Linked DNA regions of Homo sapiens: region 2 is linked to region 1. Evidence: fine-mapped expression QTL. Tissue or cell type: hypothalamus. Region 1 holds a variant in brackets; the other region holds the start of a gene. All regions are shown on one strand. Distances are between the middles of the regions.

Region 1 (2,752 bases):
CAGATGGGGTGGCAGGAGCCACATCTTCCCTGAAAACTTTCTTGCCCAGGGTGTCTGCTGGGATTTAGGAATGGTCTATGCCTGCATTTTTATCCTGGTCAGGCTGACCCTGAACCCTGAGAGATACTCTTTTTTATATTCCCATCTGGAATATGCACTGCCGGGGTCAGTGGGGTGTCTGGAGGGCCCTCTCGAGGCCAGCTTGGATGTGACACGTGTCGTGGGTCCCAACGGGGCCCAGTAGAGTGTGCAGCGTTAGAAAAATGAACATGCTCGGCTGGGCGCGGTGGCTCACGCCTGTGATCCTAGCACTTTGGGAGGCCAAGATGGGTGGATCATGAGGTCAGGAGATCAAGACCATCCTGGCTAACATGAGACCATCCTGGTGAAACCCCATCTCTACTAAAAATACAAAAAATTAGCTGGGCGTGGTGGCAGGTGCCTATGGTCCCAGCTACTCAGGAGGCTGAGGTAGGAGAATGGTGTGAACCTGGGAGGGGGAGCTTGCAGTAAGCGGAGATTGCACCACTGCACTCCAGCCTGGGTGACAGAGTGCGACTCTGTCTCAAAAAAAAAAAAAAGAAAAAAAAAGAAAAAAAGAAAAATGAACATGCTCATGGTGACCTCTGGGCAACTTTGAAATAGCCTCAGTTTCTCAACAGCCGTGCCAGGGGGCGGGGGTGGGGTGTGGAGAGTGTTAGAGTTGAGTTTCAGCACCAGTCCTTGAAAGTGCCTTTCAGAAGAACAGGTTTTATCCCCCAAACAGAGAGACAGTGGTCAGTTCACCGTACTTCGGTGCACGTTTGCAGACCTGGTGGGAAGAGGGGCATCTTAGAGCCGAGACCCATTCACTCTTGGCACTCCAGGTGGAGCTGGGCCTTTGGGGCCTGGATATATCCAGGGCTGCGGATTTTCCCCCCTTCAGGTTTAAATGTTCCTGTTTTTCTACCTTTCCCTCGCAGTATACGCTCAACGGCAAGAAAGTGGAAGTTGCCGTCAAACAGATCATCGCTGGAAAAGCCGTGGAGCAAGGAGGTGCTTTCTCGAACCCCGAGACCCTGGATCTGTACCGGGACATCCCTGAGCTGCAGGGCTTCTGAGTCAGACTGGCTGGCGTGTCACTCAGCCGCACCCGTGTGCACTGTAACTTTTGTGTGCTCAAGAAATTATACAGAAACCTACAGCTGTTGTAAAAGGATGCTCGCACCAAGTGTTCTGTAGGCTTGGGGAGGGATCGTTTCTCTGTTTTGTTAAATCTGGTGGGTACCTGGATCTTCCACACGAGTGGGATTCTGGCCTTCAGAGACCAGGAGGGAGTGTCTGGGCCGCAGGTGTGGCACTGTGGTGAGAGTGTGTGTCTTTGCACACACAGTGCAG[C/T]GGGAACGGTGGGGCTGGCTGGTGCTGAAGACAGACACACTCCTGAGCCAAGGTCTTGTCTTCAACCTCCCCGTCCCGTTGTCCCATTTTGCTCTGTGAAGGTGCAAATCCCTTTCTTCCCTTCCCATCTCAGGCTCTCCTGTTTTCCCTCAGGGTCCAGTATGCCTTTGAGCTTTAGCTGTTAGAAAGGAACCCCCGTGACTTGACACAGCTTTCACAGCTGGCTGCTAGGACCGGCGGGCTGGGTGTTCACGTGTGTCTGTGTCATGGATGCAATGCAGGCCCTGGAGGACTGTGCGTCACCCGTCAACCAGAGCGTGCCTCCGGGCCAGCTTCCCTCCAAGGAATGAGTGGATTTCATACAGGATCTCTTTATTGCACAGACTGAATGGCTTTACATGTTTCTAATGTGAATTAGGCATGTGAAGCAGTGGGTGTCCACCCGTGTCCCTCATGGGTGAGCCCTCCAGCTGTGAGCCCAGGCAGTGTGGTCACCGAGTGAGGACCCTCCTCACCAGGAACCGCATCCCTGTGCTGCCTCCACCTGAGAGTTGCTAGGGGGTTCTTGTCGAGATCATGTCATCAGCACCCCTAAGTCAAGTCACGGGTTTCCATAGCCAGGCAGTTGGTATGTACAATTCAGTTCAGCGTATGAACTTGTATCTCTAATCTGATGTCCATTTTTATATTTTTTGAAACTGAGCACAATGAAATCCTTTCTTGAATCATTTTCCTTTTGGATTATAAAAATATGGGGGAAAGTGCTATGATGAATTTTATGCAATAAATGTATACATGTGTGCACATGCACCCATGCTGTGTGTGCAGTGTGCTGGTGTGTTTTCTCTGGAGGGGGGACCGCATCTGCGTGTGTGAGGCTGGTGGTGCTTGTGCGCCCGCCAACAGCTGTGCCCTGGAGTTGTGTGGTTCGAATTGTTGGGGGCACTTCCCAGGGCCCTGGTACTTACCCACATTCCCTTGTGACCAACGAGGAGTGCTGCTCAGTGTGAAGCCAGCACCCTGGGCCCCCTCCACCCTGAGATCCCCCAACACCCAGCGCCAGCCAGGTTTCTGGCTCCTTTCTTGTCATCGCAAGAGCTGCATGTCACTTGGGTTGTGTGTGGCTACATGCCACGGGATCCAGGCTTGGCCCAGCAGCGTTTATGGCTCTCACGTCACAGGAAGTTGGAGGCAGTCCATTCTCCCGGGGCCGGGCAGCAACTCCACAGTGCAGCAGTCCTGGCTCCTGTCTGCTGCACTCTGCTGTCCTCAGGATGTGGCAGTCATCATCTTGGCCCTGCCTGGCTGCCCCACCTCTAGTCTTTCATCCGTGCTGTAGGCAGGAAGAAGGTGGGAGTGAGAAGGGGGCTGGGTA
Region 2 (2,752 bases), 77 kb before region 1:
CTGTACTAAAAATACAAAATTAGCCAGGCGTGGTGGCACATGCCTGTAATCCCAGGTACTCGAGAGGCTGAGGCAGGAGAATTGCTTTAACCTGGGAGATGGAGGTTGCCGTGTGCCGAGATCTCGCAATTGCACTCCAGCCTGGGTAACAAGAGCGAAACTTCGTCTCAAAAAAACAAAACAAACAACAACAACAACAAAAAAAAAAACACGAAAAATTAGCTGGGCATGATGGCGTGTGCCTGTAATCCCAGCTACTCAGGAGGCTGAGGCAGGAGAATCGCTTGAACCTGGGAAGCAGAGGTTACAGTGAGCTGAGATTGGGACATTGCACTCCAGCCTGGGCGACTGAGTGAGACTCAAAAAAAAAAAAAAAGCTAAGGCGGGGAGGGGGCCTTCCAGGTCATAGGTAGATAAGGGACAAATGGCTGCATTCTTTTGAGTTTTCAATTAGCCTCTGCAAAGGAGGCAATCAGGTGTGCATTTAACTCAGCAGAGGGGTGACTTTGAATAGAATGGAGGCAGGTTAGCCCTAAGCAGTTCCCAGCTTTTCTTTTCCCTTTAGCTTAGTAGTGGGGCCCCAAGATTTATTTTCCTTTCACAAATGTGTATTTTGATACCCATTGGCATACTATGTATATTATTGTATTATACTATGACATTATCTTGTGTATGTACACGATGTACTTATTTGTTAATCGTCTCCCGTCTTCCTCACACCTGTACCCCTCCTCTCCTGTTGACAGAGAACAAGAATTTTGTTTTGTTCGCTGCTGTATCCGCAAAGCTCCCAAAGTCCTCCGAATGCCGCAGGCTCTCAGTAAAGACCTGCAGGAAGAAATAGCGAATGAATGATGTACACGTGTAGGAAACAGCGGGCTCGGACGCCTGGCTTCTCCGGCTGCCCTAACGCCCTCCAGCTCCAGGTGAGGTCGGGGAGCTGGGGCCAAGGCTCGTGAGCGCCCCTCACCCCCACGCCCCCCGGCCGCGGGCGCTGGAGCCGGCGGCTGCGAGCACTCCTTTGAGCGGCGCTGCACTCAGCGGAGGGTTACAGGCGGGAGGGCGGGGCCTGGAAGGGGGCGGGGATTCGAGGCGGGGCCTGCGGGGCGGGGCCTGGGCCAAGCGGCCCGCAGGAGGCGGCGGCGGCCGTTCAGTCCCTTGTTCCCCGCCGCCGCCGTCGCTGACCCAGCCCGCCAGGCGCTCCTGACCGTCGCTTCCTCCGGTCCCAGGTCCCCGGCCCTCGCCTCAGCCCCGGCCCCTGGTCCCCAGCCCTCGTCGCAGCCCCGGCCGCCCGCCGCCGCCATGTCCAAGGAGGAGCGCCCCGGTCGGGAGGAGATCCTGGAGTGCCAGGTGATGTGGGAGCCTGACAGTAAGAAGAACACGCAGATGGACCGCTTCCGGGCGGCTGTGGGCGCCGCCTGCGGCCTGGCGCTGGGTGAGAGTCGGGCGCGCGGCCGGGCCTGCGGGGGATGGGCGGGAGCCGTGCAGGGTGGTTGGGTGGTCTCCCCATGGCTAGTTTCACGCTTCTGGGGCTGGAGGAGCCACTTGATGGCGGGGAGGCCTTCTGACTGCGGGGTTCCCCCCAGTCTTGGGGAACATCACCCCTCCACAGCACCTCCTGGCACTTCCTGACTCTGCAGCGTCTCCTCTGCATGTGGGGGTCACCCTCTCCCCGGGAGTGTCACCCCTCGGGAGGGCCAGCTGCCTGTTGACCGTGTGACCCCTTGCTAGGCTTTCCTACCTGTGAGGTGCTCCCTGGAGTCTTGACCTCCGGCCTGTGGGGGCTTCCCCCGGACATAGGGCCTTTTTGACTTGCAGCTCTTCCTCTGTTTGTGGGGGTCCCTTGCCAGTCCCCAGTGCCGTGCACTCTGTCCCCCTGACCTCCCTCATCTCCAGCTGCCCCTGCTGGAGGCCAGCACCTAGCAGGATGGTCAGGCAGGAGGCCCTGTCCACGTGTCTACACTCCCAGCCCCCAAACAGAACCTAGTAAAAGACTCTCTTTCCACCCATCACCTTGAACCTCAGAAACTGCCTCTCTCGGTGCGGGTGGGGCAAAGGCTCCTTCTCCGTGGGGTAACCGCTCCGGGTGCTCTTCCTGAGCTCTAGCTGGCTTGCCCAACTACCAGCTCCACCCCTCCACCCTGCCTCCCCTAGGTATTCCTAGGGGATTTTTTTTTTTTTTTTTTGAGACAGTTTCTCTCTCGTTGCCCAGGCTGGAGTGCAATGGCGAGATCTCGGCACACTGCAACCTCCGCCTCCCGGGTTCAAGTGATTCTCCTGCCTCAGCCTCCCGAGTAGCTGGGATTACAGGCATACACCACCACGCCTGGCTAATTTTGTATTTTTAGTAGAGACGGAGTTTCTCCATGTTGGTCAGGCTGGTCTCGAACTCCTGACCTCAGGTGATCCGATCGCCTTGGCCTCCCAAAGTGCTGGGATTACAGGTGTGAGCCACGGCGCCTGGCCTCCTAGGGGATTTTTAACTCATGGTCTCCCCTCCTCACCCCCTCCGCTGGCGCAGGGACTCCCTTGTTTCTGTTGGTGGCGTCACTGTTCTTGCTCAGGCTCACAGGGATGGACACCCCAGTCACCTGTGGCACCAGAAGTCTTCTGCCACAGCCCCATGTCGCTCACATCTCCTCCTTTGCAGCCCCTTGTCAGGGGTTCTGGGGCCTCCTTTCCTCCTCACCAAACAGTGGTTGGTTTTCCTGCTTCCTGCTTTTCCATCCATTTGCATCCTGCTTGCTTTGCC

The links. PIP is the estimated chance that this variant, and not a neighbour inherited with it, causes the effect.
Region 2: it holds the start of AACS, and the variant in region 1 is fine-mapped to the expression of AACS in hypothalamus (GTEx, PIP above 0.99). The same link has a PIP of 0.9 or more in caudate, lung and nucleus accumbens.

What each region holds. Positions count from the first base shown.
Region 1 is chr12:125,141,130-125,143,881 of GRCh38, forward strand. AACS (acetoacetyl-CoA synthetase) reads left to right here. Exons shown (of 18, transcript NM_023928.5): 18 at 963-2,187. The coding sequence ends at 1,100. Among named protein-coding and RNA genes, the nearest start is that of TMEM132B, 44 kb to the right of the region's middle. RefSeq lists an enhancer at 1,978-2,552. The variant C/T (reference allele first, on the strand shown) is at 1,378.
Region 2 is chr12:125,064,283-125,067,034 of GRCh38, forward strand. It overlaps AACS (acetoacetyl-CoA synthetase), which reads left to right and starts at 1,153. Exons shown (of 18, transcript NM_023928.5): 1 at 1,153-1,435. The coding sequence starts at 1,303. It overlaps LOC105370052 (a long non-coding RNA gene), which reads right to left. Exons shown (of 4, transcript XR_001749365.2): 3 at 721-828. RefSeq lists a silencer at 794-1,413.